3 linked regions of the Homo sapiens genome follow. The protein of the gene in region 3 purifies or fractionates together with the protein of the main gene of each other region. This does not show direct contact. Each region holds a gene or a part of one and is shown on either strand. Other genes may lie near its edges.

Evidence for each region.
Region 1: the proteins of PRICKLE2 (region 3) and EPB41L1 purify together in Homo sapiens (co-immunoprecipitation; one large-scale study listed by IntAct). This does not show direct contact.
Region 2: the proteins of PRICKLE2 (region 3) and INAVA purify together in Homo sapiens (co-immunoprecipitation; one large-scale study listed by IntAct). This does not show direct contact.

Annotation. Positions count from the first base shown.
Region 1 is NC_000020.11:36,206,740-36,210,239, reverse strand, and holds part of EPB41L1 (band 4.1-like protein 1), read right to left. Parts: coding exon of another isoform or gene 2,460-3,500; intron 1,940-2,459; coding exon of another isoform or gene 1,832-1,939; intron 753-1,831; coding exon 342-752; intron 1-341. UniProt on the Homo sapiens protein: May function to confer stability and plasticity to neuronal membrane via multiple interactions, including the spectrin-actin-based cytoskeleton, integral membrane channels and membrane-associated guanylate kinases.
Region 2 is NC_000001.11:200,897,900-200,901,399, forward strand, and holds part of INAVA (innate immunity activator protein), read left to right. Parts: intron 1-407; coding exon of another isoform or gene 408-501; coding exon 502-556; intron 557-1,573; coding exon 1,574-1,698; intron 1,699-2,204; coding exon 2,205-2,321; intron 2,322-3,037; coding exon 3,038-3,260; intron 3,261-3,500. UniProt on the Homo sapiens protein: Expressed in peripheral macrophages and intestinal myeloid-derived cells, is required for optimal PRR (pattern recognition receptor)-induced signaling, cytokine secretion, and bacterial clearance.
Region 3 is NC_000003.12:64,217,935-64,223,232, forward strand, and holds part of PRICKLE2 (prickle-like protein 2), read right to left. Parts: intron 1-5,298.

The DNA of each region.
Region 1 (3,500 bases), on a different chromosome or scaffold from region 3:
TGCAGGAGCCCCCAAGAGTCCACAGACGCATGCTCTCTGCAGGTGCCATGCAACACAGGTGGGGGGGCATGGGGTCAAGAAAGACCAGACTACCTGTCATCGCTCGACTTCAGCAAGCGATGGGGTCACAGGGTTAAAATACCAAGGAGCGCGTGTTAGGGGTAAACCGAGATGGCAAACATGCGAGCACAGAACCATGCTGTTCTGCGGAGGGGCAGTCATGCAACACGAGACAGAGCTTCAGGCTGCAGGCTGGGTGCTCGGTCTTCTCACGGGTGGCCCAGGGCCCTCTGAGCATGCGGTGCCCAGCGGGCCTGGCTCTTGAGGAAGCTCCACTGTACCTCAAACTGGGGCATATCCGGGGTGGAGCAGGCCCCTCGATCCGGGCTGTCCTCAATGCCCCCAGACTCATCATCCTGGCTGGGGGCCCCCTTGTTGAGATCCCGGGAGAACAGCAGGCCCTCAGTGTCCGAGTCGCTTTTGTCCCGGTCGAGCTCAGGCAGGCTGCGGGAGAAGTCTTCGAAGGCGCTGCCATGGTAGTCACCAATGACCGTGAAGTCCACCTCAGCCTCCAGGCTAGACGTAGAGCTGACCGTGATGCTGGAGCACTTGCGCTCAATGGCCAGGTGGTTGTCCTTCAGGAACACCGTGTCCCTCTCCTGGTCCTGGTCCTCATCGCCTGTGTCACTCTCTGGGGCCCGGGGACGTGGTGGTTTGACTTTCTCCTCGGAGCCCTCCCTCAGCCCTGCTCTCTATGGCCAGATAAAATCAAAAGAATGGGGATGTGGGGTGGGGAGAGAGAGAGAAAGAGAAATCAAGATGGTGAATGTCAGGAGAAATCTCGGGGCTGTGTCGACATCCTGAATGGAAGAGCAGGCCAGGAAATGAAAAACACCCCAGGAAAGGTTCCTTGAAATCATAACAAGCATAAAAAAAACAAAAACGACTCAAGAGTGGAGATGCCCCTTTCTGAGGGTCTCACACTGATGGCAAAAGCAAGTACAAAGCAAACGTCCTGCCAGTGACTCCTGGACAGGAGGCTCCATCCAAGGGTATTGGATCTGGGAGCTTATTGGAAGCAGCATTGCACGAAAGGCAGGGATGGAAGCCCGGACCCCAGGCCCATCCGTGCAGGTGGGCGTTGAGAAACAGAAACTAAGGAGGGAGATCCAGGGATTCAGGGAGACCCAGGAAGGGAAGGCAGAGAGGTTGGAGCCAAGAACTTTGAGGAACAAAAGAGGAAGCCAACATGTTTGTCAATTCCACTGAGTCTCCGGGGGAGGGGTCAGCATCGACTAGAGAGAAGAGCAATTCAGGGTCAGGCCTTTTGGGCACGAGCTTCTTGGGAGCTGAGTGCTACGCCAGCTCCACCCTGGGCTCCATGAGTGGACCACAGGCAAGTCAGGGAGTAGAGGCTCTGGTCCCATCAGTGTAATTGACAACAGCGGGCCAAGGCAGTGCCTCGGGGAACCAGCAACTCTTGTCCGACATACATACCTCTCAACTGGCCTGTCAGGGATTAAACACCACACACACATTTTTGGCTGGTTCATAACATTCTTTTTAAAGACCAACCTAATACCCATGAAAGATTTGTAAAGAACTTGGCTTCTGGTTCTAGGGATTCAGTGGGCTTAGACATTCACTTGCTAAGCGAGCCTCCATTTAGCCAGTTTCTGGAAGGTTGAGAGGTGTGAGGGAGACATTCCAGACAAGCCAGAGTTGAGCAGCACGAGAGGTGCTGCCACAGCAGGTGGGAACCTAAGGCGGCGATGCATCCTGGCCGGGTGAAGGTGACTGGGTCATCAGGGCACAGAGGGGCTGCAGAGACCTGAGGGCCCGAGGGGCTGGCAAATCTCAGGCGCCCCCCCTTCCCAGGGGTGTTGGCTGCTAAGTTGGTGGAGCGCTTCTCTTCCCTGACCGCATCTCCGGATTTGTTCTGGATTAGAGAAGACAGTTAGTCTTAAGGAGGCAGAAAGAAACTTGGCACTGGGACTGAGAGGGAACCAGAAGTGAAGGATGGAAACCTCTGGACTGTCAACTTTCCCAAGGCGGGAGAACCAGGGATGGGAAAGGATGAAGAAAGATCGCTGGACAAGCCAAGCAAGGTAGGCAGGAACCCAGCGGGTATGAGCGGCAAGGCAAAGCAGGTGTGTCATTTGCTGGTGGTGGCGCCACCTTCTCCATGGGGGTTGTGTGACCCTCTGGGCACCAGGTCACACCAAAAGCTGAGGGTCTTTGTGGCCAAGCTAACATGGGCCAAGCAGAGAAGCCCATCATTCAGCCTGAGCTACACCCAGGCCCGTTTAGGGAAAAAACTCACAGGGATGGATAAGCAGCCTCTGATTGCAGAAATGACGAGGGGCCACTGAAACATGCTTCTAAAAACTACAGAGCATGCGGCCAGCCCCCATGGGCGGGGAGCAGCGGTGGGGGCGGGGGCTCACGCGGCCAGTTACCCCAGTTCCAGTAGCTTCTGCCAGCGTGGTTTCACAGCCTGAATTGGGGGACACGGGCTCTAGTTCCGTGTGTGCTTCCTGGTAGGATGCAGAAGTGTCCTCCCTGAAGTGTCTGGTAGCCAGAGGTATCACTGTGGAATGTGTGGCTTTGGGGCTGGCAAAGTCCCCTGGGGGCTGGAGTTGGGCGAAGCCCAGGTCTGAGAGCGTACTCCGCTGCTGCTCTGCTTGTCCCACGGGTGCCTCTGAAGATACGTCATTTGGAAGGGACCTTGCTTCACCCTCACTCATTCGGCGAGTTTCAGCTCCGTGGGTCTCAAATATCCGAATTTTGTTGGCCACTGAGGTCTTGCTAATATCTTCTAGGGAGCCCTCTTGGTCCCCAGCCTGGAAAGAGGTCATCTCCCTTCGCTTCCCTGAAGGGAACCCAAACCCCAGAGGTATGCGCCCCTCAGCTTCTTCAGGGACTACTCTGGGCTTTCTGCTGGTGATGGGAGGAGGCCTGCGCTCACCTCCTGTGGCAGGGGACACCACAAACCCTACTTGGTCCTTGGGCTCTGGGCTGGCTTTCGAAAGATGGACATGTCTAAGAAAGGGCTCCCTGAGCTCCGAAGGCTCCCCTGACCCATGGGAGGTTGGGCTTGGAGAAGCTTCCTCCAGAGCTGCCAGGTCCTCAGAATGACCAGGGGAGGCTGGCAGGGGAATGATCACCTCCATGTGAAGAAATGCTGAAGCCTCGCGGTCCTTCAGCTCAGCCCCTCCTTTCTGGGTGGGAACCACTCCCCTCTCTTTGGGTGGGAAGTTGCCTCTGTCTGGTTTGACTGGCTTCCTGACATTCAGAGGGATGGCCCGAGGAAGGGCGCAGGCCTGGGGGTCGGGATGCACGCCCTGTCCTCTGTGAGGAGGGTGCTTCTTCAGTTCCTCTGTGGGACTTTCCTCAGCCTTTCCCAGCAAATCTCCACTCACGGGGGTCCCTTCCTCTCGGGCTGCGCTGGCTGTCAGGTGGGGAAACTCTCCTTCCACTCCCCACTGGGCATCTTCCCA
Region 2 (3,500 bases), on a different chromosome or scaffold from region 3:
GCGTGAGCCACCATGCTGGGCTTCCTTCCTCCTTTCTTTGTTATCCCATCCCATTTTTTGTCCCCTTCCTTTTTATCCTGTCTCTGCTCTTTTCCTTCTTGCCCTTCTCCCCAGTCGAGCGGTTCTTGTGGCTACCACAGCTGTCGACCCCCTTAGGCCTAGAGGACTTTGGCCCAGAGGGGAGTTAGGCTGGGCCCCTGAGAGCCCACTGAGAACAGGGTTTGCTGGTGAGGCCCACAGCCCCTTCTCTAGGTCAGCACCCCCAGTGCCAGAATCTCCTGCCCCAGATGGTTCCTGAAGCACAGTCCTCCCTTCCACTCCCCTGCTCTCAAGCATCTATTCAGCTTTTTGTAACCAAGATGGTTCATATCTAGCTTTTTTGTTATTGTTCTCTTTTCTCTTTAAAGCTGGGGAAGCTCCAGGCTACCTACACAACCTGGCCCAGGCTGGTCACGGTGTCCCCCCTCCCTGCTCTGTGCCCTCTCCTTCCAGAAATCCACCATGGAGAGTAAGGATGAGGTCAGCGACACCGACAGTGGCATCATCCTGCAGTCTGGTGAGTGTTCAGGGAAATCCCCCTGCCCTAGTCCCTAGTCCCTGGTCCCTGGTCCCTGGCCCTGACTCCTGAGTCCTGAGCCCTCAGGCACTAGGGCTGGCTGGGCTGAGACTCCCAAGGGCTGAGAGGAAGGGGAGGGAGAGGCCTCTGCTGGGAGGAGGGGGAGGTTCTGGAAGGGCTGGAGCCTCAGGGACATGTGGAGTTTTCCTCCCTGGAGAAAACTGGCTTGGAGTTTTGGTTCTATCTGGAAGAGGGATCTGCAATGTTCAACTTTAGCCCCAGCTGAGAAGTTGAAAAATCTCAGGCAGGCACAGTGGCTCATGCCTGTAATCCCAGCACTTTGGGAGGCCAAGGTGGGCGGATCACAAGGTCAGGAGATCGAGACCATCCTGGCTACCACATAGTCCCAGCTATGTGGGAGGCTGAGGCAGAAGAATCGTTTGAACCTGGGAGGCGGAGGTTGCAGTGAGCCGAGATCGCGGCATTGCACTCCAGCCTGGGCGACAGGGCAAGACTCCGTCTCAAAAAAAATATATCATCTGGCCAATGTGAAGGTCTTGCCTCTCTGTTTGGCCAGACCTGTGGGCCTAGTCTGGCCTAGTCTTGACAGAGGACAAGAAAGAAGAGGCTTATGTGTGTGTGCAAGAGAGAGGGGTAGTGGGGAGAGGGAGAGAGAGAGACAGGAAGAAGAAGGAGAAGGAAAAGAGGAAGAAGAAGGGAGGAGGAGTGGGGGGAGGACTGCACCGGCAGAACTCCCTCCCCTGCACTCCCCCACCATAGGTCACCTGGTGGGACGACCCTCCCTTCTGAGTTGTAACATTTGTGCAGCCAAGAGACGTGGTGTTTTGTGGCTGTGACACAGGCCACAGCAGCCAGCCTGCAATTTGTGGGCAGGCATGAGATGTGTGTGTGTGTGTGCATGTGTGTGCATGTGCATTCCCCTAGGGGTGGTCAATAAGTAACGGAGGAGGCTTCCATCTTCAGCCTCCCTGAGCATGTGCCCCCCAACCCTTGCAGGCCCCGACAGCCCGGTCTCCCCAATGAAGGAGCTGACCCATGCAGTGCACAAGCAGCAGAGGGCCCTGGAAGCGAGGCTGGAGGCCTGCCTGGAGGAGCTGAGGAGACTCTGCCTTCGGGAAGCGGTGAGGCCCCAGCCAGCACACACAAGCATCGGGTTCATCTCAGGAGCTGTGGAGCCACGTGTGGGGATGCGGGAGCTGGGGAGAGGGAGCCCCATTCTTGAGGGAATTCTGGACATCAGGCTGGGGGCTGGGGCCCAGAGTCCCCATGATGCAGTGTTTGACCTTGTGCTGGATGGAGAAGAGTCAGACCCAGGCAGGGGCCCAGGCACAGAGAACAAAGTTCATCAGGGGCTGCAGAGGGACTGCACAGACATAAGTGCATATGAGTGCTGTAACCCGGGTCGGTGTAGCTCTGGAGGAAGTGATCAGAAAGAGGTCTGAAGGGAAAGGGGAGGAGTGCAGAGTGGGTCTGAAGACAGGAGAGACAGTGTGGAGGATGGGATGAGGTGGGGTGGAGGGTGGTCCCACCAGGGCTTCTATGGAAGGCAGGCACATGCAGTGCAGGGGCCAGTGAGCCAAGTCTGGGCAGGTGGAGAGGACCTGGCTGGTCTCTGCTTCCTCCCCAGGAGCTGACGGGCACCTTGCCAGCGGAGTATCCCCTCAAACCAGGGGAAAAGGCCCCCAAGGTTCGCCGCAGGATCGGAGCGGCTTACAAACTGGATGACTGGGCCTTGCACAGAGAGGTGAGGAACCTCAGGAAGCTGCCAGTACCCCTCGATCCCCAAAGCTGATCACTGAGACGCCACACCTCAGCTCAGTACCCTGGCAGGTTCCCTTCCACCCTTTCACACCCAGTGAGGGTGCTTGGCTGCCTGTTGGTGAGAGACACCATGAATATGTAGCCCAAATGGCTGTGGAGAAGGGGCGCCACTAAGGAACCGAGAGCTGGGAGCTCAAGGGAGGACACTGGGTTTGACCCCATTGGGCAGAAGATCAGTTAAGAGCACCAGCCACCAACCCAGCGGGCAATAGCCTGCTCAGACAGGTTACTCTGGCCCCTAGGGCTGTCCTCCTTTCTCAGGAGGAGGTGGGGGCAGTCAGGCCCTGGGTGCCCTTCCCCTGTGGCGTCAATGGCAGCAGTTTCCCATGGGCCAGCCTGCCCCACCCTTTGGGGTCAGGAGGGAAAGTGTCCCACTTGGGTTCCCACCCTGCCCGGTTCAGCAGGTGGGCTGGTGGGTGGGTGCCCATGCCAGCTTTTCAGGCTGACAAGTTTGCTTTTCGGCTCCTCCCACTCCTTCACCCTCTGCTCCACGTCCGTCCATTGGTGCTGCTGTCTGCCTCTCTTCTGTCCTCAGGGCTTAGGACTGGGACCTAGAGCACTGTGTCAGGGCTGCTGTCCACCCTCTGGGCCCCCAATCTCCCTGCCTCTCTCTAGCCTCACTCCTGCCCCCTCTCTCAGGACCCCCTAAGCAGCCTGGAGCGCCAGCTGGCCCTGCAGCTGCAGATCACAGAGGCAGCCCGTCGGCTGTGCCTGGAGGAGAACCTCAGCAGGCAGGCTCGGCGGCAGCGGAAGCACTCCATGCTGCAGGAGGAGAAGAAGCTGCAGGAGCTCCAGCGCTGCCTGGTCGAGCGGCGGCGCAATAGCGAGCCACCTCCGGCTGCTGCTCTCCCCCTGGGCCGAGGTGAGCCGGCTGCCCTGAGGGGGGCCATGCTCCTTAAATGAGCTTTTGAGGGATGGTGGGCGCACAGCCCCGTGCCACTGCCTTTGCATTTGGCTCCAGCTGGGTAAAGCTGATTCTTGGGTTCAGCTCCACCCCATCCTGATTCTCTCCAACTCCAGCAAGGCTTCCCCATCCTGTGAGGTCTTCTTCTCCGTCTCCTTAGAAAACACCCTACTCTCTCCTTCCGTATCCTCCTCAAAA
Region 3 (5,298 bases):
CCTTACAAAATAGGATCACTGGGATTCATTTTCAGGACAATAATCTGCATGGCTGCCACAGCCTGAATCACAAGATATACTCAGTTGGGCTAACCCTGCTTTTCCTATTAAGGCAGAAAAAGTATCTGTCATACTGTACAAATTTACAAAACCAAGACGGATAATGAACTGGGATTTAATTTAAAATAGCCAAAACCTCAGTTAACCAGAACCCCTCATTCCCCAGAATACTCCTTTCATGTACCACTTCCTCCCCACCCCAGGTGACAACAGAGCAAACACCTGTGCTCTTTGAAACTTCACAATGCCTTTTACCTTAATTTATATAAATCAGAACATTTTTTACTTAAAAACAATAAAACCTCATCTGGGAAACATCTACTTCTTATAATCTCAAGTACCTGAAATATTTGTAATTGTACATATAATATAATTACACACACATTCACACAGTAAGTCCCAAGATATTTCACATCTCTTATGTCTGTAAGTTGTGACGGTTCCAGAGTCAGGTGATATGAATTCAAATCCCAAGTTGGCCACTAACTAGCTGTGTGACCTCGGTCAAGTTATTCAACCTCTCTGTGCTTAGTTACTGCAGAATGCAGATGGTAACAAACCCTTCCTCCTAATTCAAGGATCAAGTAAAATACAGCACATAAAACAGTGAACACCTAGTGAACACAGTGCCTGGCACGCAGTAATCATTAAATATTAAATATTATTTTATTACTCTGCAGATGGAGAAACTGAGTCATGGTGCAGCTGAGGGATTTATTTGAGGTTTACTCAAATAAGTGACAATTGGAACTAGACTCTGGACTTTCTGAATTTAGTCAAATTTTCTTTCCTCTATGCCTATTATAAAGGTAGTTTAGAAGGAGTAGCATCAGCATCCCAGGGGAGCTTGTTAAAAATTCAGAATCTGCATTTCAGCAACGCCCCCAGGTAGATGCACATTAAACTTGAGAAGCCTTGGTCTCTAGCACTCTGTAGGATGCTTGCATACATAACAAAGCCCTGGAGAGCTTCTGAAAGTGAACGAGCAACACCAACACACTGCCCACTGACACCCCCTCTTCACTAGTGGAAAGCATCCAAAGGTCAGACGTTCTTCCAGGAAGCTTCCCGCCATTCTCTGGGGGGCTACCACTTCTCATATTCCAGCACATATTCACAACACAGAGAAGTCAGGTCCTGATCTAAAACTTGACCTTTTAGTTCCCCGCCAAGAGTGGCCAACAGTGCAAATTACACTCCTTCCCTGATGAGGCTGAATTCATTCTGAAAGTTTGCACTCATCAAGGTCATGGCTGGAAGACAACATATAGATCACCTGATTTAGGACCTTCATGTTCAAGATGAAAGAACTGAGGCTCAGAAAACGGAAACATACATTTTAGTTAGAACCTGATGTGCACACAACTGGCGATCAAGAGCAACAAGCTTGGCTTCCCTCTCTCCGAACTCCCATCTCTCTGCCCACAGCCACAAGTTTAGACCAGAAGAATTCCCTATGTTCCCTGTAGTCCAGCAAAGGACTTCTTCCACCTGCCTGCAGTTTTTACTTCTCATCTCAGGGTGTCTTCTGACTTTCCAAGCAATCTCACACTTTCATTCCAAAAGCCACATTAAAAGCAGAAGGTGAAGACACCCCTATGTTCTGTTTCAAGTCTGACATATTCTCTTGTGTGTTTCCAACTTTACCAAAGATCAACCAACGAGATTTTAATTCAATGGCTAAATAATGAGGTGTTTCTCAAATGAGGGATTCATAAAGGAGCTATATAAGAGAAACAAACACATCCCCAGGGGACATTATAATGAAAAGTATAAAGAAGCCTAGAATGGTGGACAGGATTTGGACTCTAATTATCCTGGGTTCGAATCCCAGCATTACTCTTTACTCTCTGTGTAAGCTTGAACGAGTTACTTAACTTCCAGGAGTCCTGATTTCTCAATTACTAAATAGAACCAATAATATCTAGCTGCATGATTGCTGTAAGAATTAACAAGACAAGTTTACATAAAGCATCTTTCGTAGCAAACACTCAGTAGGCGCTCAGTCTGTGACAGTTATCATACATCCACATCAACATTAACCATAGACTATACACAGACACATAGACACCCAAAACATACATTGCCTTCTATATTAACAGTTACCTTAAAACCTTACCAGATTTTGTGACCATAGAAAATAGGCTGTTTCTTAGTTAAGTCTTGGAACTTTCATGAGCAGGCATCTCTAAGGACTCATAACTGATGAATGGATGCCAAGAAAAGAGCTGGAAAAATTGGCATCTTGCCCAGTTGAAATGAAATGCTAAGAATTTCTGCCCTGGCTACCCTTAACCCTGGATGGGGCTGGAAAATATTTACAAGGTTTGATTTTAAGGAGTCGAGGAGAGGAGGGTGACTTGAAGACAATAGCACTCCCAGTGTGAGAGGAATCGAGGCAACTCAAGTCAGCCACCTATCACTCGAGGCAGGCTGGGTGCTGGGTTGGAAAACATACCAACCGGAAGTGGCTCTTGCTCCATGTCCAAAGAGATAAAGAAAGGGCTCCTGTGCTGCCTTCAGTGCCCCAGGATACAGCACTCAAACACTTACATACAGCAGCTCAAACACATACAGCAGCTCAAACACTAGCACCAGGAAGAAGGGAGCTATCAGAGAACCCCCGACTATTGCTTCCTCCTGTAGGTTCACTCTGCTGTTCTGAGTGAGCATGACTCTGGCAATGCTTTGTCAAACGAGGCCAGCCCTGATTTTCTTCATGCCTCCAGTTCCAACCAGCGACATCTCTGGATTCTGTGCCCCCTGGAGTGTTAGGTTTCATCTTCCAAGTCAACACTCATATCTGAGTGCTTGGTTCAGCCAATTTGATCTTTATAGACTTCATAGCCAAACATGCGCTAAAGTTTACCCCCTACACCCACCAGGGAAAGGCAGGCTCATATTGTACTTGAAAATCTGCTCCTTTTAATTAATGTACTTTTAGAAATGGTCCATGGTGCTCTAGTGGAAAACATGTGCAGTGCTTAGTCATAAGGAGGGTTTTCGGATTTAAAATGGCTTCGCTGTGAGTTTTGTAGGACAGATGGGGAGAGGAGTTTTTAGCTAAAGGAGAACAGAGTTGCCTTCTGAGTTGCAACTTCACCCAAAGGGAACCTTCAGCTTTGCACTTTCGTGGTGGATTGGCAATTGCTCTGATATTCTCCCAGCTGCTTCTCCATTCTGTCTTCCTTTCCCTCCCCTCCTCTTAAAGCTCCATCCAAACTCACACACTCTCTCCCCTCTCTCCAGCCTTGCTTTTTTCTCCTCTGCCTTATCCCCAGGGAAATAACACAACAAGCAAGCCTATGGTTTTCAGATGCCAAATAATAAACTGCTCAGACAATAGGCCAAAGAAAAAAGAAAACGAAGTCTCCAAACTCGACTGACTCAATCCCCAAAAGAGATCTTCACCCCTGCTTGATTCATACACACACACACACACACACACACACACACACACACACGCACACACACAGCATAAAAACCAGAACATTTCATTTTAAATGTTTACAGGTTAAGACAGAGCAAAGGGGCAAATGTCACTCAAAAGCATCAACAAAGAAAACAGATTTGGCCAATATCTCATCCTCAAGCTTCTTAGTTTGCAAATAGCTCATGGTCACCAGCAGTTCCCTGTTTATAAGCACCACAGTCATGGAGGGAATGAACAGAGAAAGGTTTCAGTGGATCTTTAAGCACAAAAGAAAGTCTTTATCCAATTGCCACCCAGAATTCCTATCTGAGGGACAGAGCCTTTTGACTCTTGTGTGCTTACAGACAGCACAGAAGAAATGACCACAGCCTGGGGGCTACTAAATAAAGAGGTTTCTGCTAATTCGAGGCAGGCAGTGCAGTTGGGTCATTGAGCCCTTCTCAAATTCAGAGTGTTTGGAACTGATGTTTATTAAAAGAAGCACTAGACGGGTACCACGGTTTGTCATCTGCTATGTCATTTTACTTGGATTTCCCAAATACCTTGTTGTTATTGATTTCTAATTTAATTCTATTGGCCTTCAGTTTCTCCGTTAAATAAATATTAAAATTACTGCCCCCTGTTGTTCACAGATCGGGATTAACTGGGAAATATGCTCAACATCCAGTCAGTACCAGGAATTGGGCAAGGGCATTATAGCCGCTATCTTCACAGCAATCCCATGCATTCAGGGGACTTTATTTCCAATATTCATATGAGGAAGCCAAAGTTCAGAGAGGTCAGGCAACTCTCCTGAGATCATACCTCCCATCAGGAAGTAAGGGAGGTGGGCTGTGGTTAAGGTATAAATATTATTCTCCGTGCAAAACACAACTCTACTAAAGATCAGTAGCAACCAGGAACGACCAACTCCCAGTTCCGAGTTTCTTGGGAAAGAATTTTATGGCAGACTCCTCTCACTCTTGTAATTCACTTTTGTCTTTCAGATCCCTGTGTCAGAGTTCTAATTCCCCAAAATTAAAAAGAAAGATCTTGGGAGGAAAGGGAGAAACAGCAGTCCACTTGTGTGACAGAAGTAGGCCCACCGGCATGAAGGAGGCAGACCACGAGCCTGGCAAAATTGTGCCATAGCAGTGACACAAAACAAAAGCAGACAGACTGGGCCATGGTAGGCAGGCAGGCAGGGGAGGGCTATTCCTTTCCCTTAGCAGCCAACCCATAAGCTGAAGGCACCCAGATGGTGGCAAAAATTCAGCCTTGGAACTTCTGAGGAGCCAACCAGCAGGTTAAGCACATATTCAATGGCCTCCCTGGATAGAGAAGAAAATGCTCAATATCTGCACTGAAAAGAATTAAGAAAGAAAAGGACTGTCTCTCACATGCATAGGTGAAGCAGAAGAGAAATCTAGAAATGCATTGATTCCAACTGGGACCCCGCAGCTTTCTACATGTGACTTGTCAGCTGCCAAAACAGGATGCCTTCTTTAAGGCTGCCTAAGCCCCAGTTAGTTCTAAATGATTTTCATTATACCAGCTGGTCACTTTCAGTTCTGTGAAATACAGTAGTTCTGGATAATATACTTTATTCTGTCAACTCAATCAATAGGGTGGAAAGTTTCTTTGAGTGGGAATCATTTGGATATAACAGTACCAGAGATGGCATCTTTTCTGCTAGCAAAACCTTTCTGCAGGCAAATGGATGTGAACATGTTGCCTTTTCAATACTGTTTTTTAGCAACAACACTTATAATGATAATGACAAAATGGTAACAATGACAACAACAACAACAACAATAGCAGCTAAT